7 linked regions of the Homo sapiens genome follow. The protein of the gene in region 6 purifies or fractionates together with the protein of the main gene of each other region. This does not show direct contact. Each region holds a gene or a part of one and is shown on either strand. Other genes may lie near its edges.

Region 1 (3,500 bases), on a different chromosome or scaffold from region 6:
CAGCTTGGCTGTTTCATGCCTGGGCACGCCCCTCCCCTGCTCACCTGTCGTAGAAGTCGTCCCGGTAGTAATCATAGTCAAAGATGTAGCCACTGGGGAAACAAAGGGGAGAGGGCTGGAGCTTAGGGACGGCCACTCAGCCCACTTTCCACAGGCCCTCATCTCCAGACACCTCCCCAAGTTCTAGATTCAGCACACTGTCACACCAGCATTTACTCCCTCTGTGGAAAGAGAGAGTCATCCCACCAGACAGACAGACAGTCAGACAGCCCCACCTGTATATGGCAGATGCTGCTCTCTTTAGCCCCTTGGGTCTGTCAGGCTTAGGCTCTCCAGCCATGTTGATGTCTGTGTGGAGGGAGAAGGCAGAGTTGGAATGCTAACATGACAGTGTGCCCACACACATCAACCTCATGCACACGCACAGCAATTCATGTGCTTACACGGTATACACATGGATTCTGCTCACTGATGGTGCCAACAAAGGTCTTCATACATCTAATCTTCAAACATTAGATTCATATCCAGGTATCACATGGATATGCCTGTTTATATGTCCATACACTTTCAGATCCATCCAGGCATGCTCATAAACATGTCCTCCCCCCCGCCCCACCACACACACACGTCGAATATTCCTATATGCATTCTCAAATACACTCATGTAAATGCGTAACACATCAGGTACATGGGAACGCATACACAGAGCCACACTCACACATACATTCACATATCCAGGTAAGAAACTCACACACAGGTAACGTGTATTCTCAAGTACACTCAGTATAGACAACTACCCACATGCAAATGAGCCAATGCACATTCACATGGATGTTCTACCAAACACCTTCATGCCTAGAATAGTCCTTACTACATGAAAAGGTCTCAATAAATACCTGGTAAATGAATATATGTATATCTGCTGACACATTCAAATATGTTCTCTCTCTCACACACACACACACACACACACACACACACTACATCTATACATACAAGGGTTGTGTCCACATATCTCCACATGTTCAGTCAATCCATATACTTCTTGTTCAGGAAAAAACACATACAGATACCCCTTTTCAAACATACACATATACACAGGAGTAAATGCACATGCATGAACACTGTACATACTTCAAGAGAGACCACTAGCATAGTCATATCACATGGACATGACACCAAAACCAAGCGTATTCACACTGTCCTTGTGCTCTCAGGCCCTCCTGCTCGCTCTCAGAAAGGGTTCTAACCTAAGTCATCTGTACCCGGTGTAACAGGCTGTTCTAGGCCACTCTGTTCTCTTTCTCTGGAGAATCTGCATTTTAACTGGAACTGTAAAGCCTGTCACTAAGAAGCTCTGAGAAAGCAGAGACAGGTCAGAAGTGTTTTCCAGAGGCTTCTAAAATTCTTCCCTATAGGGATTAATTTTATAACTATTTAAAACTTAAACATAGCTTATAAATTTATAAAATCTCAGAGCAGTGGTAGCGGTGAGAGAAAGAGAGAAGGGGGTTGAGAACTGGATAGTGATAGCAGCTATTCTAGAGAATACTAGGAGAATATAGTGAAGAGAGGCTTACCCAGGGTCTGCCCGGCCAGCACCCGCCCATTCTCTCCCAGCACAGCTGCCCGGGCATGGCGCTCATTGGAGTACTGAACAAAGGCATAGCCCTTGTGCACAGAACAGCCGGCCACACGGCCATACTTAGAGAAGATGGTCTCCACATCTGATTTCTTCACCAGAGCTGTGTTGAGGTTTCCAATGAAGACTCGAGAGTTGATGGACTTGGGGTCATTCTTGTTGGTTACATTGCTTGCCTGAAGCTTCAAGGACATGGTGCCCACCTGAAGAAAAAGAGCCTCGGTGAAGCTGGGTCCCTGGGCTGGGCTCAAGGACTGCCCACGGCCCATATCCTGGATAAATGAATTGCCTCTTACCTTCCTTAACCCTTATAGCATCCAGCCTACCTGTTCCTGCATCTTGTTTTCTTGTCATATTACCAAGAGTTGCCACATATTGGCTGCTGACCTCATGCCAGGTGCTTTACATACATTCCCTCATTTGTTACTCACATGATATGCAGAACCACAACATTTTACAAGGGAGAAATCTCACATTCAGAGAGACCACAATGTTAGTGAATGGCAGGGCTGGGATCTGACCCCCTGATCTGCTTGACTCTAATTCTTTTGAGTCTACTCCTTTAATGCTCATCTCAAATGTTATCCCATTCAGGATCTAAATTTGAAGATCTTCAATGTAGAACCATGGTCACATGGTATTTGCAAGTGATGTTTACTCTAGACCACCACCATATGATGAAAATTGCAGGGGCCGGGCATGGTGGCTCACAACTGTAATCCCAGCACTTTGGAGGCCGAGACGGGTGCATCACCTAAGGTCAGGAGTTCGAAACCAGCCTGGCCAACATGGCGAAACCCCGTCTCTACTAAAAATACAAAAAATTAGCCAGGCGTGGTGGCGGGTACCTGTAATCCCAGCTACTCGGGAGGCTGAGGCAGGAAAATTGCTTGAACCCAGGAGGTGGAGGTTGCAGTAAGCCACTGCACTCCAGCCTGGGCGACAGAGCCAGACTCTGTCTAAAAAAAAAAAAGAAAAGAAAAGAAAACTGCTTAGTCTGATCCAGACACAGACCTGTCTGAATTGCTACCAACCATTTTGAAAAGGGTATGCTAGCTAAGCCCGATAATGGTTTGAATTTGTGTCCCCGCCCAAATCTCATGTCTAATTGTAATCCCCAGTGCTGGAGGTGGGGCCTGGTGGGAGGTGACTGGATCATGGTGACTGAAATCATGCATTTCCCCCTTGGTGCTGCTCTCATGATAGTGAGTGACTGCTCGTGAGATCTGGTGTTTAGACGTGTGTAGCACCTCCCACTGTCTCTTTTCCTCCTGCCCTGGCCATATGAAGACGTGTCTACTTCCCCGTCGCCTTCCACTATGATTGTAAATTTCCTGAGGCCTCCCAAGAAGCAGAAGCCTGTACGGCCTGCAGAACTGTGAACCAATTAAACTTTTCATTATAAATTACCCAGTCTCAGGTATTTCTTTATAACAGTGCAAGAATGGACTAACACAAAGCCTCACCAGGCACTCGCTGTGGCTAAGGGTGGTATACAATACTGAATAATCCCAAGATCCCACAAGTTAATGTCATGATTACTCATATTTTACCAGAAACTGATTGACAAGTTCATTAACTTACTAGTAATGAGCATTCGAACACAGGTCAGTCTGTCACTAAAGTCTATTTCTTTCAACTTTATCATTTTGCTTCCCAGAGCTAAAGCCAATTTAGATACCACAGAAAGTCAGCACATTCACCTGAGAATTATTTTTAATAAATTTATTTTTTAGTTACCCATATTAATACTAACTCGTTCAAATTTTGTTCTGTTTGGCTTAGAGATGAGACTGCACCTACCCTTTGCTCTCTATATTCTGGCCAGGTCTTTTACCCCAAAGGGCTGTACAAATTT
Region 2 (3,500 bases), on a different chromosome or scaffold from region 6:
GGAGGCCGAGGCCGATGGATCACCTGAAGTCAGGAGTTCGAGACCAGCCTGGTCAGTAGAGTGAAACCCCATTTCTCCTAAAAATACGAAAATTAGCTGGGCATGGTGGCACACGCCATAGTCCCAGCTACTCAGGAGGCTAAGGCACAAGAATCACTTGAACCCTGGAGGTGGATGTTTCAGTGAGCCGAGATCACACCACTGCACTCCAGCCTAGGCGAGAGAGACTCCATCTCAAAACAAAACAAAACAAAACAAAACAAACACCTCTTCATCAAAGGAATGAGAACACAAGCCATAGACTGGGACAAAATATGTGCAAAAGACATATCTGATAAAAGACTTATCTAAAAAAAATAAAGAACCCTTAAAAGTCAACATAAAAAATGAACAATCTGATTTAAATAGGGGGAAAGGATCTGAACAGGTACCTCACCAAAGAAGATGGCCAAGAAGCATATGAAAAGATGCTCAACATCAAGATGCTCACTAGGAAATTGCAAATTAAAACGAGATACCACTACACACTTATTAGAATGGTAAAAAACCAAAACACTGACAATACCAAATGCTAGTAAGGATGTGGAACAACAGAAACTCTCATTCATTGCTGGTAAAAATGCAAACTGGTGCAGCCACTTTGGAAGACAGTTTGGCAGTTGCTTATAAAACTAAACATAATCTTACCATACAATCTAGCAACTGCACTCCTTTGTACGTACCCAAATGAGTTGAAAACTTAGGTCCACACAAAAACCAGACGTCTACAGCAGGTTTATTCATAACTGCCAAAACTTGGAAGCAACCAAAATGTCCTTCAGTAAGTGAATAAATATTCATACAATGGAATCTTATTCAGCAGTAACAAGAAATGAGAATGACATGGAGGAACCTTGAATGCATATTACTTAGTGAAAAAAAAAACAGTCTGAAAAGGCTACATGCTGTCTAATCCCAACTATATGACACTCTGTTAAACGCAAAACTATAGAAACAGTAAAAAGATCAGTGACTGCCAGGGATTAGGAGAACAAAGCATAGAGGTTTTTTGTTGTTGTTGTTTTGTTTTTTCCAGGGGGAGTGGGGGCGGGGGCAGTGAAACTATTCTGTATGATATAATAATGGTAGATACCTGTCATTATCCATTTGTCCAAACCCATAGAAGGTACAACACAAAGAGTGAATCCTAATGTAAACTATGGACTCTGGGAAATGCTGATGTCAATGTAAATTCATTAATTGTAACAAATGGACAACTCTGGTGCTGTATGTTGACAGTGGAGGAGGTTGTGGGTGTGTGGACCAGGAAGACTCTCTGTACTTTCCATTGGATTTTGCTGTGAACCTAAAACTGCTCTAAAACATAAAGTCTATTTTCAAAAAATTTTATTTTTAGAGACAGTGTCTTTCTATGTTGCCCAGGCTGGCGTCCAATTCCTGGGCCCAAGGGATCCTCCTGCCTCAGCCTCCTGAGTAGCTAGGACTACAGATGTGTACTACCACACAGGCCAAACTCTACTTAAAAACAAAACAACACAAAACAAAAAAACTTCTGCCAGGTGCAGTGGCTCACACCTGCAATCCCAGCACTTTGAGAGGCCGAGGCGAGTGGATCACCTAAGGTCAGGAGTTCGAGACCAGCCTGGCCAACATGGTGAAACCCTGTTGTCTCTACTAAAAATACAAAAATTAGCTGGGCGTGGTGGCAGGAGTCTGTAATCCCAGCTCTTCCGAAGGCTGCGGCAGGAGAATTGCTTGAACCCAGGAGGCGGAGGTTGCAGTGAGCCAAGATTGCACCCTTGCACTCCAGCCTGGGTGACAAAGCAAGTCTCCATCTCAAAAAACAAACAAACAAAAAATGATTTAAATGTAAGACCTCGAACTATAAAAACCCAAGAAGAAAACATAGGAAATGGCATTTTGAACATAGACCCTGGCAAAGATTTCATGACGAACACTCCAAAAGAAATTGCAACAAAAATAAAAACTTACAAGTGAGACCTAATTAAACTAAAGAGCTTCTGCACAGCAAAATAAACTATCAACAAAGTAAACAGACAACCTACAGAATGGTAAAAAAAAATCTGCAAACTATGCATCTGACAAACGTCTAATAACCAGAATCTATAAGGAACTTAAATCAACAAGCAAAAAACAACCCTATTAAAAAATGGGCAATGGACATCAACAGACACTTCTCATATGTGGCCAACAAGCATATAAAAAAATGCTCAACATTAACTAATCATTAGAGAAATGCAAATAAAAACCACAATGAGACATCTCACACCAGTCAGAATGGCTATTATTTAAAACTCAAAAAACAACAGATGCTGGCAAGGTTGCAGAGAAAAGGAACGCTTATATACTGCTGGTGAGGATGTAAATTAGTTCAGCCACTGCGGAAAGCAATGTGGCGATTTCTCAAAGAACTTAGAACATTCGACCCAGCAATACCATAATTGGGAATATACCCAAAGGAATATGAACCATTCTACCATAAAGATACATGCATGTGCATGTTCATGGCAGCACTATTCACAGTAGCAAAGACATGGAATCAACCTAGATGCCCATGCAAGGGATGGACTGGGTAAAGAAAATGTGGTATATATACACCATGGAATACTACACAGCCATTAAAAAGAATGAGATCATGTCCTTTAGAGCAACATGGACAGTGCTGGAGGCCATTATCCTAAGTGAATTAATGCAGGAACAGAAAAACCAAACATGGAATGTTCTCTCTTGTAAGTGGCAGCCAAACATCAAATACCTATGGATACAAAGAAGGGAACAATAGATACCTGGGCCTATTTGAGGGTGGAGGGTGGGAGCAGGGTGAGAATCAAAAAATTACCTATTGGATGCTATGTTCATTACCTGGGCGGCAAAATAATCTGTACATCAAACCCCCAGGACACACGGTTTACTCATAATAAATCTGCACAGATACCCTGCAAACCTAAAATTGGCCCAGGAGTTTAAGACCAGCCTGGACAATACAGTAAGACCCTGTTTCTATGAAAGATAAAAATTAAAAAATTAGTCAGATGTGGTGGCGCATTCCCGTAGCCCCAGCTACTTGGAAGGCTGAGATGGAAGGATCATTTAAGCCTAGAAGGTTGAGGCTGCAGCGAGTCAAGATCACACCACTGCACTCCAGCCTGGGTGAGAGTAAGACTCTATTTCAAAAAAAAAAAAAAAAAATTGGGGGAAAAAATACAGCAATGATAAATGATTTTAGACAAAACTAAAAAATGAAGTGATGTTTTTATCTAAAGAAAATCCTCGGCCAGGAGCGGTGGCTCACACCTGTAATCCCAGCACTTTGGGAGGCCGAGGCGGGCAGATCACAAGGTCAGGAGAGCGAGACCATCCTGGCTAACATGGTGAAACCCCGTCTCTACTAAAAATACAAAAATTAGCCGGGCGTGGTGGCGGGCACCTGTAGTCCCAGCTACTTGGGAGGCTGAGGCAGATGAATGGCGTGAACCCAG
Region 3 (3,500 bases), on a different chromosome or scaffold from region 6:
TACCAAACCATATTACCTAACCTCAAATGGACCCTTTATCATCTCTCATCTTTTCTAACCTTTTCTTTTTTTCTTTTTCTTTGTTTGTTTGAGATAGAGTCTCACTCTGTTGCCCAGGCTGGAGTGCAGTGGTGCAATCTTGGCTCACTGCAACCTCTACCTCCTGGGTTCAAGCGATTCTCATGCCTCAGCCTCCCGAGCAGCTGCGACTACAGGTGTGCATCACCACCACGTTAGCCAGGCTGGTCTTGAACTCCTGGCCTCAAGTGATCCACCTGCCCTTGGCCTCCCAAAGTGCTGGGATTACAGGCGTGAGCCACCGTATCTGGCCTCTAACCTTCTTTTATGGACTTCTTTCTAGAATACCCCCCAACAAATTCCAGAACAGTAATTGTCAACTCTGGCTACACATTCAGATCCTGAGGAGTTTAAAACAAATTCTGATCTAGGTCCCTTGATCAATCAAATAAGAATTTCTCATTTTACTGGGAAAGGGTAGCTATCTATATATAATTTTAAAGTAATTCTAATGTGCAGCTCAATTTGAAAACCATTGTTCAATAACCTCTTTTGATAACTTAGGAAATAGGAGATCAGTGGATCAGCTTTTAACAACCACATCGGAGACTACAGCTTGCTAGATCCTGAACTTACACATCCCAAGCCATCTGCAGTGGATTTGTCCTCCAAGGTGAAGTCAACATGGCTCCTCTACCCATTTCTTTATCACTCATTAATTTCATATAACCTCACAATATGACTTGTGACTCACCACTGATTGAACTAAAACTGGTTTTTTGAAGGTCACCAAAATATTTCTAATCAATTCAAAAGGCGATTGGATTCATCCTCAAATATGAAGTTCAAACGCCTGTTCTGCCCTTCCATCTTCCCTCTTATGAACCTTGGTATCATTAGTTTCTGTGATCACAAAAGCTAAAAACCTCATACATCTTTATTTTTTTTCTTCTCTCACCCTCAAGTTTAGTCACTAAGCCTTAATAAATTTCCATTATATATTCCCTCACTGCCTCTGGAATCTCCTCTCTAGAGTTAGTCCCTCTGATTCAGCTTGGCCAGTGATATTTTAAAATGCAGTCTTAACTTCTCCTTTGTTCCAAATTGTACAGAAGCTACATCCCTAAGCATTCCAGACTATGTCAGTTTAATTCCAATCTTTCAACTTCATTTAACTCTCACATGAACCCTACAAAATAACTGGATGAGCGGATATAGTTGGTGCATTAAGTCTTTTTTTATGAGGCAGAGTCTCACTCTGTCACCCAAGCTGGAGTGCAGTGGCGCCATCTCAGCTCACTGCAAGCTCCGCCTCCCGGGTTCACGCCATTCTCCTGCCTCAGCCTCCCGAGTAGCTGGGACTACAGGCTCCCGCCACCACGCCCGGCTAATTTTTTGTATTTTTAGTAGAGACGGGGTTTCACCGTGTTAGCCAGGATGGTCTCGATCTCCTGACCTTGTGATCTGCCTGCCTCCCAAACTGCTGGGATTACAGGCGTAAGCCACCGTGCCCGGCCACATTCTTTACACATCCTCTGTAGTGAGTTAAAGATCACCATGAATTCTTTGCCATTCCTCCCACCAACAGGTGGAGACTATTTACCCCCACTTTGAATCTGGACTGGCCTCATGACTTTGACTAAGAGAATGTTACAAAGGGCCCTTTAAGAAACCTGGTACTCTCTTGAGATTGAGATTGTCGTGGCCAACATGGTGAAACTCCATCTCTACTACAATATAAAAAATTAGCCAGGCGTGGTGGCGCATGCCTGTAATCCCAGCTACTTGGGAGACTGAGGCAGGGGTATCTCTTGAACCTGGGAGGTGGAGGTTGCGGTGAGCTGAGATTGCGCCACTGCGCTCCAGCCTGGCGACACAGCAAGACTCTATCTCAAAAAAAAAAAAGAAAAAAGAAAGAAACCTGTACCCTCCACTTACTCTGTTAGACAATTGCCATGCTATAAAGCTTTGACTAAACTCTTAAATCATAGAAATCCACACAGAAAGAGACCTAAAAGATATTCCAGCCGAGGCCAACCTCTGAGCTGAACACAGCCTGCTCGATTGAGTTCAGTCTGCAGCATGTGGAACAGAAACACTGCCCAGCTGAGCCCAGTCAAACCACAGAATTATGGGAAGTAAGAAATCACTGTTTTAAGCCACTAAGCTTTGGGGTGGTCTGTTAGTGAAGCAATGGTGAATTCCAACATCCTCAGAGCACCATCATCTGCCTTCTCTCCAATAACCAAATAATCACCCATCCTTCAAATTAGTGGACAAGCATCACCTCACAGAGTTCTTCTCAACTACTCTGCTGGCCTGGAGTACCTCCTCTAGCATCTGACATGCTATATAACTCATGCTGACCCTCTTGTCTGGTGCCTTGAGTTATCTCTTACATAATTATTTTACTTCTAGTAATTACGATGGTTCCCATTGAAGCACAGAAAATGGAACTTGTGCTTGTTTCTTGTAAGTTAAGTGTAACATATGTGTTTTAAAATATTCCTCCAAAATGTATGAGAAGGCATCCAGGTAAAAAATTCATGCTACTTCATGCAACCCACCTCAAGTGGTTCTCAACCCTGGGGGTTAAATATATGAGACAGTGTTTATTTAGACCAGGACTAGGGCTAATGAAGCAAAGCAGACTTAAGACTAAAAATCTGGAGCCATGGAAACAAAGTCTTATCAGGATAAGGGTAGACACTTTGATTAATGATCGGACTCAAACAGCTTGAGAATATAAACTGAAGGCTCATTAGTTATTAATAATTCCAATTTAATTATAATTAAAACCAAATTTGGAGTTTCTTTATTTCAAGGGCTCTCAAAAGCCCAACCATCAGCCAAAATCTATCTTCAATTAGATAATGATTAGGAACTTAATACAGCAAGAATTTTGTTTCACACTGAAGTTGAATATTACTTTGTTTTTTTAAAGTTTATATGCAGATTCTTGCTCTAAATTAGTGATCTAAACCTTTTAATCATAGGACCCTACAGAGTAAACAAGTTTGGAGTAAACATCCAATCCATAGACATGTTTTACTGTAACACATAATGCACATTAGAAAACAAAGGACAAAACTGAAACTTGGTACAATGAGAAAAAATAAAAATAAAAGTGCCAACATATTCTTCCAGTACCCTAAAGTATCACCTTGAATATCCCTTTGGGGAGTACAAACCCCACTTGGTAGATAACTGCGCTGGTTCATCAACTGATAGGGGAAAAACCCAACCACACTCTTGGTCTTCATGTAATTCTGTGAATAAAATTTGAAATAAATATATTAAATAAATAAAGTAATACCTGCTGGTGGAAAAGTTCTTCCTCAACAACCACTCCAGCTGCTTCTTCCTCCTCCTCCTCTTCTTCAGGTATGGTTGTTTTAAAGACTGTACTTCTTTGAGCAACCTCCTAAAAACAATAGTAGTTTAAGTTAAAAAACACACTTAAAATCACCAAATGCGGGGGA
Region 4 (3,500 bases), on a different chromosome or scaffold from region 6:
TTTTTTTGTATATGCAAAATGCTCATTGCTACTTTATTTAATATAACAAAAAAGCGGGCCAGACACAGAGACTCACGCCTATAGTCCCAGCATTCTGGGAGGCTGAGGTGGGAGGATCACTTGAGCCCAGGAGTTTAAGACCGGCCTGGGCAACATAGTGAGACCCGCATCTCTACAAAAAAAAACGAAAACAAAAACAAAGAAAGAAAGAAAAAAAAAAGAAAAAAATTAGTTGGGTGTGGTGGTGCAAAACTGTACTCTAGCTACTAGGAAGGCTAAGGTGTGAGGACTGCTGGAGCCCAGGAGGTCAAGGCTGCAGCAAGCAGTGATTGCACCACTGCACTCCAGCCTGGGCAACAGAGGGAGACCCTGTCTCCAAAATAAACAAACTGAAAGCAACTTAAATACCTGTCAATAGAGGACTAATTTTTAAAATTTATAAATGATAATGCAAACATAAATTTTTATTTATTTATTTTTGAGATGGGGTCTTGGCCTGTCGCCCAGGCTGGAGTGCAATGGCTATTCATAGGTGTGATCACAGCGCACTGCAGCCTTGAACTCCTGGGCTCAAACCATCCTCCTGCCTCAGCCTTCCAAGTAGATGAAGCTACAGGCATGCACCACTTTTCCTGGCTACTGATGTTTTGTTCTTTTTATTTTTGTTTTATTTTTTGGAGAAGTATCCATGATACATTTGGTGAAAAAGGCTTTCATTCTTTTTGTTTGTTTGTTTGTTTGTTTGTTTGTCTGTCTGTTTTGAGAGTCTTGCGGTGTCACACATTCTGGAGTACAGTGGCATGATCTCAGCTCACCACAACCTCCGCCTCCTGGGTTCAAGCAATTCTCCTGCCTCAGCCTCCCTAGTAGCTGGGATTACAGATGCAAGCCACAATGCCCAGCTAACTTTCTGTATTTTTAGTAGAGACGAGTTTTTTTTTTTGAGACGGAGTCTCTCTGCTTTGCCCAGGCTGAAGTGCAGTGGGGCCATCTCGGCTCACTGCAACCTCCGCCTCCTGGGTTCAAGCAATTCTCTTGCCTCGGCCTCCTGAATAGCTGAGATTACAGGCATGTGCCACAACGCCCAACTAATTTTTGTATTTTTAGTAGAGATGGGGTTTCCCCATGTTGGTCAGGCTGGTCTTGAACTCTTGACCTCGTGATCTGCCTGCCTCGGCCTCCCAAAGTGCTGGGATTACAGGCGTGAGCCACTGCGCCTGGCCTTCATTTTTTTTTTTTTTTTTTTTGAGACAGAGTTTTGCTCTTGTTGCCCAGGCTGGAGTGCAATGGTGTGATCCTGGGTTCAAGTGATTGTCCTGCCTCAGCCTCCCGAGTAGCTAGAATTACAGGCACGTGCCACCACGCCTGGCTGATTTTGTATTTTTAGTAGAGACGGGGTTTCTCCATGTTGGTTAAGCTGGTCTACTACTAAAAAATACAAAAATTAGCTGGACATGGTGGCGTGTGCCTGTAATCCCAGCTACTTGGGGGGCTGAGGCAGGAGAATGGCTTGAACCTGGGAGGCAGAGGTGGTAGTGAGCCAAGACTGCACCACTGCCCTCCAGCCTAAGCAACAGAGCAAGACTCCATCTCAATATAAATAAATAAAAATTAATTCAAATTAAATAATATACAGAGTACCTCCAATGCTCCACAGCAATTGCTCAGTTGCACCAATTGTACAGTGCAGATCACATAACATTTCTATCATTACTAAAAGTTATAGGGCCAGGTGTGGTGGTTCATGCCTGTAATCCCAATGCTTTAGGAGGCCAAGGCAAGAGGATTGCTTGAGGCCACGAGTGAGACCAGGCTGGACAACACAGGGAGACTCTATCTCTAAAACATTTTTTTAAAATTAGCCTGGAGTGGTGGCATACACCTGTGGTCCCAGCTACTCAGCTGGCTGGGAGGCTGAGGCAGGAGGATTGCCAGAGCCAAGGCTACAGTGGGCTATGATCACGTCATTGTACTTCAGCCTAGGAGACAGCGCAAGACTCTGTCTCTAAAGAAAAAAATAAGTAAATAAAAATAAATAAACAAACAATGAAAGTTTTTTTTTCTTTTTTCTGAGACGGAGTCTCGCTTTGTCGCCCAGGCTGGAGTACAATGGTGCGATCTTGGCTCACTGCAATCTCTGCCCAGCTAATTTTTGTATTTTTAGTAGAGACAGGGTTTCACCATGTTGGCCAGGCTGGTCTCGAACTCCTGACCTCAAGTGATTCACCCGCCTCAGCCTCCTGAAGTGCTGGGATTACAGGCATGAGCCACCGCGCCTGGCCAATAATGAAAGTTCTGTGGGACAGTGCCACAATAGGCCATCCTTTTCTTCTGTGCTTTAACCTAGGACCCTGAAGCACTGTGGCAACACTAGCCTTGGGATTTTCTCCTTTTGTGCTATAGGGACCAGACTTAGTGTTAGTCTCAGCCTTAGCTTGGGGTCTGCTCTGACCTCCAGATTCTTTTTGACCATTTTAAGAGGACTGGTCTCCCCTCCCTGTCTCCTCTCCAGGTGATCCGCCAGCTAATGAAGAAGGAATTCACCCTGGAGTTCTCCCGAGACAGAAAGTCCATGTCTGTCTATTGCTCCCCAGCCAAATCTTCCCGGGCTGCTGTGGGCAACAAGATGTTTGTCAAGGTCAGAAATCGGAATGTGCCTCAGCCCCCTCTTCTTCCTACTCCTAGCCACCTGTCACTGCCCTGGAAGGAAAGTGGTGGTCTCTGAATGCTGTTCTGGTCTCCTAGGGTGCCCCTGAGGGCGTCATCGACCGCTGTAACTATGTGCGAGTTGGCACCACCCGGGTGCCACTGACGGGGCCGGTGAAGGAAAAGATCATGGCGGTGATCAAGGAGTGGGGCACTGGCCGGGACACCCTGCGCTGCTTGGCCCTGGCCACCCGGGACACCCCCCCGAAGCGAGAGGAAATGGTCCTGGATGACTCTGCCAGGTTCCTGGAGTATGAGGTAAGCAGCTGGGAGCCTCCCACTGTCGTGGAGCTGGTGAAGGGCCGGGTCCCAGCCATCCACTCACAGCTCCACCACCCGGATCATTTCCTACCTCGTCAGTCAAGTTGATGGCTCCTTAGTACAGGCCATGGAATCACAGGACAGTAGAGTTTCAGAGAACCTTGGGAGGCCGGGTGCAGTGACTCACACCTGTAATCTCAGCACTTTGGGAAGCTGAGATGGGAAAAGCGCTTGAGCCCAGGAGTTCAAGACCAGCCTGGGCAATGAAGTGAGAACCCCATCTCTATTAAAAAAAAAATTTTTTTAATTACCTGGTTAAATTCATAGGGGTCTGGGTAAAAAGTAAAATACATTTTTAAAAATGTTAAAAGAAAAGAGATGAACTGGACATGGTGACACACACCTGTAGACCCAGCTACTGGGGAGCCTGAGGTGGGAGGATCACTTGAACCTAGGAGTTGGAGGCTGCAGTGAGCCATGATCCCACCACTGCACTCCAGCCTGCATGACAAGCAAGGCCCTGTCTCTAAAAA
Region 5 (3,500 bases), on a different chromosome or scaffold from region 6:
TCTCACTGTCATTCTCTGAAAGGTCATAAATGGCCAACTAATTAACCAATCCAATGGCTTTTTTCCAGACTTTGTTCCTCTCCACTTCTCTGAAGTATTGAATACGCTTGATACCACTTTCTTGAAATTAAGTCCCTCCTTAGTTTTTGCCCATTGCATATTTTGGCTTGTCTTCTATTGCCCTGATTAGCCTTCACTCTCCTCTCTGGTATTTGCTTCTTCCATGGCTTTCTTCCTTAGTTGAACTCTTAATTTTTTCCAATAAAGTATACAGTTATTCAGTATTTCTAAGTATCTCCAGAGCATAACAGTGATTTTAGTGTTTTTTGTTTGTTTGTTTGTTTTTTAATTGAGTCAGGGTCTTGCTCTGTCACCCATGCTGGAGAGCAGTGGCGTGATCTCGGCTCAGTGCAGCTTCAACCTCCCCGGCTCAAGTGATCCTCCCACCTCAGCCTCTCCAAGTAGCTGGAAATATAGACGTATGCCACCACACCCAGCTAAATTTTGTTTCAAGTTTTGTAGAGATGGAATCTCCCTAAGTTGCCCAGGCTGGTGTCGAACTCCTGGGCTCAAGTGTTCCTCCTGCCTTGGCTTCCCAAAGTGCTGGGATTACAGGCGTGAGTCGCCACAACCGGCCAGAAACTATTGTTCTATTTATTTTGTGCAGAGCTTTGGTTGTTCAGGCAGGAGGGTAAATCTGGTCCCTGTTACTCCATCTTGGCCAGGAGTAGGAGTTGGGGAAGTGCTTTGGGAGTATAGAGTCCCCCCTTTACCCTTGGAGTATACATTCTAAGATCCTAGTAAATGCCTGAAACTTCAGATAGTACTGAACCTTGTATATATTCTATGTTATTTCCTATACATCTATTCCTCTGCTAAAGTTTAATTTATCAGTTAGGCACAGTAAGAGATTAACAGCAATAACTAATAAAATAGAAAAATTATAACAATACACAATAATAACAGTTATGTACTGTGGCTGGAATTTTTTCACTTGAGGTGCGACAGCAAAACTAGCATGAATTTCTTTCTCCTCCTGTACAATTTCATGGATACAAGTTTTGTTCTTAACATAGATCTTAGCAACCTCATCATATGAGCTTTTTTTTCTTTAATTTTTTTTTTTCTTTTGAGTTGGATTCTCACTTTGTCACCCAGGCTGGAGTACGGTGGTGTGCTCTCAGCTCTCTGCAACCTCTGTCTCCCAGGCTCAAGCGATTTTCCTGTCTCAGCCATTCAAGTAGCTGGCATTACAAGTGTGTGCCACCATACCTGGCTAATTTTCATATATTTATTTATTTATTTATTTTGAGACGGTGTTTCACTGTTGTTGCCCAAGCTGGAGTGCAATGGCGTGATCTCGGCTCACCTCAACCTCCGCCTCCCGGGTTCAAGTGATTCTCCTGCCTCAGCCTCCTGAGTAGCTGGGATTACAGGCATGTGCCACCACGCTCGGCTAATTTTGTATTTTTTTGTAGAGATGGGATTTCTCCATGTTGGTCAGGCTGATCTCAAACTCCCGATCTTGGGTGATCCGCCCACCTCGGCCTCCCAAAGTGCTGGGATTATAGGCATGAGCCACTGTGCCTGGCCTATTTATTTTTTGAGATGGAGTCTCGCTCTGTCGCCCTGGCTAGAGTGCAGTGGTGTAATCTTGGCTCACTACAACCTCCGCCTCCCGGGTTTAAGCAATTCTCCTGCCTCAGCCTCCTGAGTAGTCAGGACTACAGGTGCTTACAACCATGCCTGGCTAATTTTTTGTATTTTTAGTAGAGACGGGGTTTCGCCATGTTGGCCACGCTGGTCTTGAACTCCTGGGCTCAAGTGATCCGCCTGCTGGGCCTCCCAAAGTGCTGGGATTACAGGCATGAGCCACCACGCCCAGCCCTTTATTAAGTTGAGAACTTTCACTTTTTCACTTAAAGGAAGCACTTTATGGCTTCTCTTTGACATATCTGAATTGCCAGCATCGTTACTACTGTGCTTTAGGGCCATTATTAAGTAAAGTATAGATTCCTTGAACACACGCACTGAGATACCACAGCAGTCGTAACCCAGATGGATACTAAGTGACTGGAGTGTGACACCTACAGTGTGGACATCGTCCCATGTGGGATGGAACAGGACAGGAAGAGAGTTCCTCACACTATCCAGAGCTGTGCATAATTGAAAACTTAGGAACTGTTTACTTCTGGAATTTTCCATTTAATATTTTCAGACTGCAGTTGACTGTGGGTAACTGAAACCTCAGAAAGCAAAACCGTAGATGGGGTTACCACTGTAGAGTTACTGTGTTACCTTGATCCAAAACCTTTACCTGAATGATTCCTTTAACCATTCCCGGTAGGCTTTCTCTGTTAAAGCTGCTGTACCAAATCCAGGGGTCAGTTTGCTGCCCTCTGATCGCCTGACCTCTTAGCGGCATTCAACATATTTGTCTGCTCTCTCCTTTCTTCACTTGGCTTCTGAAATTCCAACCTCTCTTGGTTTTCTTCCTGCCTCATAGCACTCACTAGAATTATCTCTTGCTGGTTCCTCCTCTTCTTTCTGATCCCCGAATGTTGGCTTGCCCAGGACTCAGTCTTTTGTCCTCATAATAAATCTTCTGGTGATCTTACCCAGATCATCTCTTTTAAACCCCGTCTACATTCTGATCGTTCTCAAATGTAGTCCCACTGCTCTCCTTAGCTTCATCCTGCATATTTATAATCTCTACTTGGACATCAGTGGACACTTCAGATTTACTATATCCAAACAAAACTCTTGATCTTTCAGAACTTGCAGTCTTCTTCAGTCTTTTCCCTTCTCCCAGTTGCCCTGGCCACAAACATAGAAATCGTCCCAAATCTTCACTTGTCCTTACCGACATCCAAATTTTCAGCAATTTCTATAGTGTATTTCTGTATTAGAGTAGCAAGAGATGTTATAAGAAATAAACCCCTATATCTCAGTATATGCCATAAATGAAATTAATTTTTGCTCACATGAAAGTGAAAAGCTATATTCCCACTTAGTGGGTGGCCTTCCAGGTGGTCATTTAGGGGCCCAGGTGCCTGCATAGTTTGGCTGCCCTCCTCCAGGGCTCAGTGTCCTGGGAATTCCCTGGTTGGGAGAGGGCAGCTGGGAGGTTTTCATGGGCCAGACTTGGATGTGGTGCATATCCCTTCTATCCGTTGGGTTGGCTAGAACTTAACTATTACGTGGCCATACTTCACAGAGAGGCTGAGACATACAGTCATCATTTGTCCAGAAGGAAGAAGAAATATGCCTAGTGACCTATTAGCTGGTCATTTTGCCAGATGTAGTAGGGTCTACCTACAGATTTTAAAAGTCTGACCATTTGTCATCACCTTTGCTGCTGTCTTTAGCTCATGTCACCTTCATCTCTGAAGTGGATGACTACAGATCTTCCTAACCTCCTGATAATCTTCCATTCTAATCTCTACATAGTAGCCATAGTAATGTCTTTTAGAATGTAAACCAGATTCTATCACGCCCCT
Region 6 (3,500 bases):
AGAGGTTGCACCACTGCACTCCAGCCTGGGCAACAGAGCAAGACTCTGGCTCAAAAAAAATAAATAAAGAAAGAAGGGATTAAGGAGGGAGATGAGAGAGAAGAAATAGAGGCAGCAGAAACAATAATCAAAGTCTAATAGTAACCAGAGAAAGGCATGTAGAACAAAATGAAAGTTAACATTTTAGAATTAGAAAAACAAGCCAACACTGAAAACACTATTAGGGAGGCAGAAATTAAAGATGTCAGATAAGGTATGGGAGAAGAAAGTGGGCTAGTGAATCAACTGTGTACGTCTTCATCTTTCAATGTCTCTTGCAGATGAAATCAAGGTAATTAGAATATCCAGGGTAATCTTGAAAGGGGAGAGAAATGCCCAAAAAGATTTCCTGAAGAGTATATATTTAGAAGTGGCAGAGTCCACCTCTTTGACCTGATTCTACTGGCAAGTGGGAGTGAAAGGGCTGTCTTATTTCATATGATTGGAACTAACAATTGTTTGGTTAATTGAAAAAGCCAGTTAAAGCAGAGAATCATAGAATATGATACATAACATAAACTTTTAAACTTAAATCTGTACGTTCATTACCAACTTTTACAAAATCAAGGCCTTTTCTTTGACTATGCGTCCCCAGATTGGCATTCAACTGCAGGTTTCTTATATCCCCATAAACTGTGGTTTTGCTTAAAGCGGAGTGGGAACTTAGATATTTGCAAAGCGATCTGCATGCAAAACCTTATTGATTTTTATGATTTTCCCCTGAAACTTTTATAATTGTCTTATTCCAACCTAACTTGACAGTAGATGTTTTTAAGCATTTACCTTTATTAAGTTTCTCCAAAACATTCAATCTAGTTTTATGAGATATATCCATGGACCTTTTTTTTTTTTTAAAGCTCATCAGCTACTGTTAGTGTTAGTGTATTTTATGCATGGCCCAAGACAATTCTTCCAGTGTGGCCCAGGGAAGCCAAAAGATCAGACACTTCTGATCTAAATAGTAGTTAAGTATTAATGGTGATATGTGAAGAACTGTGGATAAATCATGAATCTTGGGACACTGCGTATTGGGGAGGGTATGGAAAGAGGAGGGGTGGGGTAGAGAGTACTCCTGATAGCTCATTTCCTCAGTAAAGTTGAACAGATCAGGCCGGGTGTGGTGGCTTACGCCTGTAATACCAGCACTTTGGTAGGCTGAGGTGGGCGGATCACGAGGTCAAGAGATTGACACCATCTGGCCAACATGGTGAAACCCCATCTCTACTAAAAATACAAAAATTAGCCAGGCGTGGTGATGCGCAACTGTAGTCCCAGCCACTTGGGAGGCTGAGGCAGGAGAATCACTTGAACCTGGGAGGCGGAGATTGCAGTGAGCCAAGATCCCGCCACTGCACTCCAGCCTGGTGACAGAGTGAGACTCTGTCTCAAAAAAACAACAAAAAAAAGAAAGTTGAACAGATCATTTTAACCTTGTTTTGTTTGCTTCATCTCTTGGGGGTTCTAGGGTCTGTTGGGATGGTATATGGTGAAAAGTGGACTAGAAGAAAAATCAGACTCCCATGACATCCCTCGGGTCAGTCAGTACCGCCTTGCTGCCCACCTGGGATCAGCCCTGGTTCTTTATTGTGCCAGCTTGTGGACCTCACTGTCACTGCTACTCCCTCCGCACAAGGTAAGAGTTGTGTGCAAATATCTGTGTTCAAGACCCCGCTTTTGGTTCTTTTGGATATATATCTAGAAGTAGAATTGCTGGATCATATAGGAGTTGAATATTTTGCCAACATTTTCTATTGGCAAAGGTGAAACAAATTGAAAAATAGAGTGGGAGGGAGTACCAACAACAAGAAATATCCCAGTCGCTTTACCTCTGACTCCTAGAAGGGATGGTGGATGGCAAAGTGAGAAAGATCAGAACAGAGGTGTTTCTGAACTTCTGGTGTGGACAAGAGCTATATTGTTCGTTAAATGGGGACCTGCCAGTTAAGTCTAATAGTAAACCTTAGTGATTTTGTCTGAAGTATTTTTCTGTCTGCTGATTAAAGCAAAGTACTAGTTTTTCATTTTATGCTTTGATTTAAAAGCAAGGTATAACATTTTTTTGAGGCCTTCATTAATAATAGAGGTTCCAAGACACCACACCCTTATAGGACATTTTTTTCCCTAGAATTTTTTTTTAAATGAGTCTTGGCCAGGCGCGGTGGCTCACGCCTGTAATCCCAGCACTTTGGGAGGCAGAGGCAGGCAGATCACCTGAGGTTGGGAGTTTGAGACCAGCCTGACCAACCTGGAGAAACCCCATCTCTACTAAAAATATAAAATTAGCCAGCCATGGTGGCACATGCCTGTAATCCCAGCTACTCGAGAGGCTGAGGCAGGAGAATTGCTTGAATCCGGGAGGCAGAGGTTGCAGTGAGCTGAGATGGCACCATTGCAGTCTAGCCTGGGCAACAAGAGCGAAATTCCATCTCCAAAAAAAAAAAAAGAGTCTTATATTAGGTATTGAAATCATGGGTTGACCTGAGTAAGCTGTTCCTGGAGAAAAGTTTGAGATGACAGCAGGACTCTTAAGTCGAATCATCCATTAGGTACTTGGAGCTAGTAGCTAGATCCCAGTAAGGACTGGACGTGTTGTCTTGGCAGTCATTCCCACAGAGAAGCCAAATTGGGTTGAAATATTGATACAGTAGACAACCACTGAATAATTCCACATCTGAAAAATAAGGAATTATTTGAAAGTCTCCTGACTTTCAAAGCCAAACTTCATTTATTTACTTATGTATTTATTTATTTATTTGAGATGGAGTCTTGCTCTGTTGCCCAGGCTGGAGTGCAGTGGTGTGACCTTGGCTCACTGCAACCTCCACCTCCCGGGTTCAAGCAATTCTTCAGCCTCAGCCTCCCGAGTAGCTGGGACTACAGGCGCACACCACCATGCTCGGCTAATTTTCTGTATTTTTAGTAGAGACAGGGTTTCACCATGTTGGCCAGGCTGCTCTTAAACTCCTGACCTCAGGTGATCCACCCGCCTCGGCCTCCCAAAGTTCTGGGATTACAGGTGTGAGCCACCGTGCCCATCAAAGCCAAACTTCTAAAATGAATTCATTTTAATTCAGACTTCTAAAATGAATTCATCTTAATGAATTCATTTTGCCTGCATCTATAGCTGCTGCTTCCTGACAATCTATTCCTTCTTTTCAGTCCCTGTAATTATCTTCCTCACCCAACCCAATACATACACACTCACACATTTACCCACACTTACACATAAACCCACACACTCTTGCTACTGAAATTGTACTCTTAAAGGTTACTGATGACTTTATCAATTGTTTTTCTCTGTTAGTTTAGATTCACCTAATTACAAAAAGGATTTGAGATGCTACCCAATGAGCCATATAGTGCTATGCTGTCCAACACAGTAGCTACTAGCTACATATGGCTATTTAAATTTTAACTAATTAAGGCTGGGCACGGTGGCTCACACCTGTAATCCCAGCACT
Region 7 (3,500 bases), on a different chromosome or scaffold from region 6:
TTGAGAGATTTATTTCTGGTTCCATGGCTGGAGCAACTGCACAGACTTTTATATATCCAATGGAGGTGAGTACCATTGTCAAGTCTGACTGTGTGATGGTGTTCGTGTTGGTTGTCTATTGCTCTCTAACAAGTTATCCCAAAATTAACAGTTTAAAACAAGCATTTATCATCGCACAGTTTCTCTGGGTCAGGAATCTGGAAGCAGCTTAGCTGGGTGCCTCTGGCTCAGGGTTTTTCACAGCCCACAGTCAAGATGGTAGTCAGAGCTTGGAATCAGCTGGAGGCGGATTCCAAGCTCACTCATGTTGCTGCCAGGCCTCACTGGCTATTGGCTGGAAACATCAGTTCCTTATCACGTGAGCCTTTCTGTAGGCTGCCTGAGTATCCTCAAAACACAGTAGCTGGCTTCCCTAGAGTCAGTGGTCCAACAGAGAGAGAGAGAGAGAGTGCCTAAGATGAAAGCTGGTATCTTTTGCCTCTTCTGCTGTATTCCATTGATCACACAGACCAACCCTGGTAGAGTGTAGGAGGGGCTGGTATAATGGTGTTAATAACCGGAGACAAATATCACTGGGGGTCACTTTAGAGGCTGGCTGCCACTTTAGAGGCTGGCTGCCATTCCTGTCCAAAGAGTTTCTGTACCATAAATTTAATAATGGAATCTCAGGATTTGATTATATGGTGATTATCCTAATTAGACATCCTTTCATTAGTGCATAGGTTGGCAAAACACAGACCTACGGACTGTTTCATACAGCCCTTGACCTAAGAATGCCTTTTACATTTTTAAAAAGTGGGCAACACAGGAAAAAGTGAGAAAGATCTAAAATCGACACCCTAAGATCACAATTAAAAGAACTAGAGAAGCAAGAGCAAACAAATTCAAAAGATAGCGGAAGACAAGAAGTAGCTAAGGTCAGAGCAGAACTGAAGGAGATAGAGACACGAAAAACCCTTCCAAAAATCATTGAATCCAGGAGCTGTTTTTATGAAAAGTTTAACAAAATAGACAACTAGCCAGAATAATAAAGAAGAAAACAGAGGAGAATCAAATAGACACAATAAAAAATGATAAAGGGGATATCACCACCAATCCCACAGAAATGCAAACTACCATCAGGGAATACTATAAACACCTCTATGCAAATAAACTAGAAAATCTAGAAGAAATGGATAAATTCCTGGACACATACACGCTCCCAAGACTAAATCAGGAAGAAGCTGAATCCCTGTATAGACCAATAACATGTTCTGAAATTGAGGCAGTAATTAATAGCCTACCAACCAAAAAAAACCCAGGACCAGACAGATTCATAGCCGAATTCTACCAGAGGTACAAAGAGGAGCTGATGCCATTCCTTCTGAAATTATTCAAACAATAGAAAAAGAGAGATTCCTCCCTAACTCATTTTATGAGGGCAGCATCATTCTGATACTAAAACCTGGCAGAGACACAACCAAAATAGAAAATTTCAGGCCAATATCCCTGATGAACATCAATGTGAAAATCCTCAATAAAATACTGGCAAACTGAATGCAGCAGGACATCCAAAAGTTTATCCACCATGATCAAGTTGGCTTCATCCCTGGGATGCAAGGCTGTTCAACATATGCAAATCAATATAACGGAATTCATCAATAAACAGAACCAGTGACAAAAACCGCATGATTATCTCAATAGATGCAGAAAAGGCCTTCGATAAAATTCAACACCACTTCATGTTAAAAACTCTCACTAAACTAGTTATTGATGGAATGTATAACAAAATAATAAGAGCTGTTTATGACAAACCCACAGCCAATATCATACTGAATGGGCAAAAGCTGGAAGCATTCCCTTTGAAAACCGGCACAAGACAAGGATGTCCTCTGTCAGCACTCCTATTCAACGTAGTATTGGAAGTTCTGGCCAAGGCAATCAGGCAGGAGAAAGAAATAAAGCGTATTCAGATAGGAAAAGAGGAAGTCAAATTGTCTCTGTTTGCAGTTGACATGATTGTATATTTAGAAAACCTCCTTGTCTCAGCCCCAAATCTCCTTAAGCTGATAAGCAACTTAAAGCAAAGTCTCAGGGTACAAAATCAATGTGCAAAAATCACTAGCATTCCTATTAACCAATAATACACAAACAGAGAGCCAAATCACGAGTGAACTCCCATCCACAATTGCTACAAAGAGAATAAAATACCTCGGAATACAACTTACAAGGGATGTGAAGGACCTGTTCAAGGAGAACTACAAACCACTCCTCAAGGAAATAAGAGAGGACACAAACAAATGGAAAAACATTTCATGCTCATGGATAGGAAGAATCAATATCATATCATAGGAAGAATCAGTGGCCATACTGCCCAAAGTAATTTATAGATTCAATGATATCCCCATCAAGCTAACATTGAATTTCTTCACAGAAATAGAAAAAACTACCTTAAATTTCATATGAAACTAAAAAAGAGCCTGTATAGCCAAGACAATCCTAAGCAAAATGAACGAAGCTGGAGGCATCACGCTACCTGACTTCAAACATACTACAAGGCTACAGTAACCAAAACAGCATGGTACTGGTACCAAACAGATATATAGACCAATGGAACAGAACAGAGGCCTCAGAAATAACACCACACGTCTACAACCATCTGATCTTTGACAAAAACAAGCAATGGGGAAAGGATTCCTTATTTAATGTATGGTGTTGGGAAAACTGGCTAGCCATATGCAGAAAACTGAAACTGGACCCCTTCCTTACACCTTATAAAAAAAAAATTAACTCAAGATAGATTAAAGTCTTAAACATAGACTTAAACTATAAAATCCCTAGAAAAAAACCGAGGCAATACCATTCAGGACACAGGCATGGACAAAGACTTCATGACTGAATCACAAAAGCAATGGCAACAAAAGCCAAAATTGACAAATGGGATCTAATTAAACTAAAGATCTTCTGCACAGCAAAAGAAACTATCATCAGAGTGAACCGGCAACCTACAGAATGGGAGAAAAATTTTGCAATCTATCCATCTGACAAAGGGCTAATATCCAGAATCTATAAGGAACTTAAGCAAATTTACAAGAAAAAAAAACCCACCAAAAAGTGGGTGACGGATATGAACAGACACTTCTCATAAGAAGACATTTATGCAGCCAACAAACGTGAGAAAAGGCTCATCATCCCTGGTTGTTAGAGAAATGCAAATCAAAACCACAATGGCATACCATCTCACGCCAGTTAGTTAAAAAGTCAGGAAACAACAGATGCTGGCAAATATGTGGAGAAATAGGAATGCTTTTACACTGTTGGTGGGAGTGTAAATTAGTTCAAGCATTGTGGAAGACAGTGTGGCAATTCCTCAAGGATCTAGAACCAGAAATACCGTTTGACCCAGCAATCCCATTACTGGTTATATACTCAAAGGATTATAGATTTTTCTACTATAAAGACACATGCACACGTATATTTATTGCAGCACTGTTCACAATAGCAAAGACTTGGAACCAACC

Evidence for each region.
Region 1: the proteins of COX15 (region 6) and RALY purify together in Homo sapiens (affinity purification with mass spectrometry, with the first as the bait; one large-scale study listed by BioGRID). This does not show direct contact.
Region 2: the proteins of COX15 (region 6) and ETFA purify together in Homo sapiens (affinity purification with mass spectrometry, with the first as the bait; one large-scale study listed by BioGRID). This does not show direct contact.
Region 3: the proteins of COX15 (region 6) and LMNB1 purify together in Homo sapiens (affinity purification with mass spectrometry, with the first as the bait; one large-scale study listed by BioGRID). This does not show direct contact.
Region 4: the proteins of COX15 (region 6) and ATP2A1 purify together in Homo sapiens (affinity purification with mass spectrometry, with the first as the bait; one large-scale study listed by BioGRID). This does not show direct contact.
Region 5: the proteins of COX15 (region 6) and CLCC1 purify together in Homo sapiens (affinity purification with mass spectrometry, with the first as the bait; one large-scale study listed by BioGRID). This does not show direct contact.
Region 7: the proteins of COX15 (region 6) and SLC25A24 fractionate together in Homo sapiens (co-fractionation; one large-scale study listed by IntAct). This does not show direct contact.

The regions. Positions count from the first base shown.
Region 1 is NC_000020.11:34,070,411-34,073,910, reverse strand, and holds part of RALY (RNA-binding protein Raly), read right to left. Parts: intron 1,846-3,500; 5' UTR 1,837-1,845; coding exon 1,581-1,836; intron 349-1,580; coding exon 276-348; intron 93-275; coding exon 45-92; intron 1-44. UniProt on the Homo sapiens protein: RNA-binding protein that acts as a transcriptional cofactor for cholesterol biosynthetic genes in the liver. Binds the lipid-responsive non-coding RNA LeXis and is required for LeXis-mediated effect on cholesterogenesis.
Region 2 is NC_000015.10:76,301,470-76,304,969, forward strand, and holds part of ETFA (electron transfer flavoprotein subunit alpha, mitochondrial), read right to left. Parts: intron 1-3,500. UniProt on the Homo sapiens protein: Heterodimeric electron transfer flavoprotein that accepts electrons from several mitochondrial dehydrogenases, including acyl-CoA dehydrogenases, glutaryl-CoA and sarcosine dehydrogenase.
Region 3 is NC_000005.10:126,832,636-126,836,135, reverse strand, and holds part of LMNB1 (lamin-B1), read right to left. Parts: intron 3,443-3,500; coding exon 3,335-3,442; intron 1-3,334. UniProt on the Homo sapiens protein: Lamins are intermediate filament proteins that assemble into a filamentous meshwork, and which constitute the major components of the nuclear lamina, a fibrous layer on the nucleoplasmic side of the inner nuclear membrane.
Region 4 is NC_000016.10:28,895,488-28,898,987, forward strand, and holds part of ATP2A1 (sarcoplasmic/endoplasmic reticulum calcium ATPase 1), read left to right. Parts: intron 1-2,512; coding exon 2,513-2,638; intron 2,639-2,745; coding exon 2,746-2,964; intron 2,965-3,500. UniProt on the Homo sapiens protein: Key regulator of striated muscle performance by acting as the major Ca(2+) ATPase responsible for the reuptake of cytosolic Ca(2+) into the sarcoplasmic reticulum.
Region 5 is NC_000001.11:108,956,985-108,960,484, reverse strand, and holds part of CLCC1 (chloride channel CLIC-like protein 1 isoform 1 precursor), read left to right. Parts: intron 1-3,500. UniProt on the Homo sapiens protein: Anion-selective channel with Ca(2+)-dependent and voltage-independent gating. Permeable to small monovalent anions with selectivity for bromide > chloride > nitrate > fluoride.
Region 6 is NC_000010.11:99,722,128-99,725,627, reverse strand, and holds part of COX15 (heme A synthase COX15), read left to right. Parts: intron 1-1,504; coding exon 1,505-1,672; intron 1,673-3,500. UniProt on the Homo sapiens protein: Catalyzes the second reaction in the biosynthesis of heme A, a prosthetic group of mitochondrial cytochrome c oxidase (CcO). Heme A is synthesized from heme B by two sequential enzymatic reactions catalyzed by heme O synthase (HOS) and heme A synthase (HAS).
Region 7 is NC_000001.11:108,144,844-108,148,343, reverse strand, and holds part of SLC25A24 (mitochondrial adenyl nucleotide antiporter SLC25A24), read left to right. Parts: coding exon 1-65; intron 66-3,500. UniProt on the Homo sapiens protein: Electroneutral antiporter that mediates the transport of adenyl nucleotides through the inner mitochondrial membrane. Originally identified as an ATP-magnesium/inorganic phosphate antiporter, it also acts as a broad specificity adenyl nucleotide antiporter.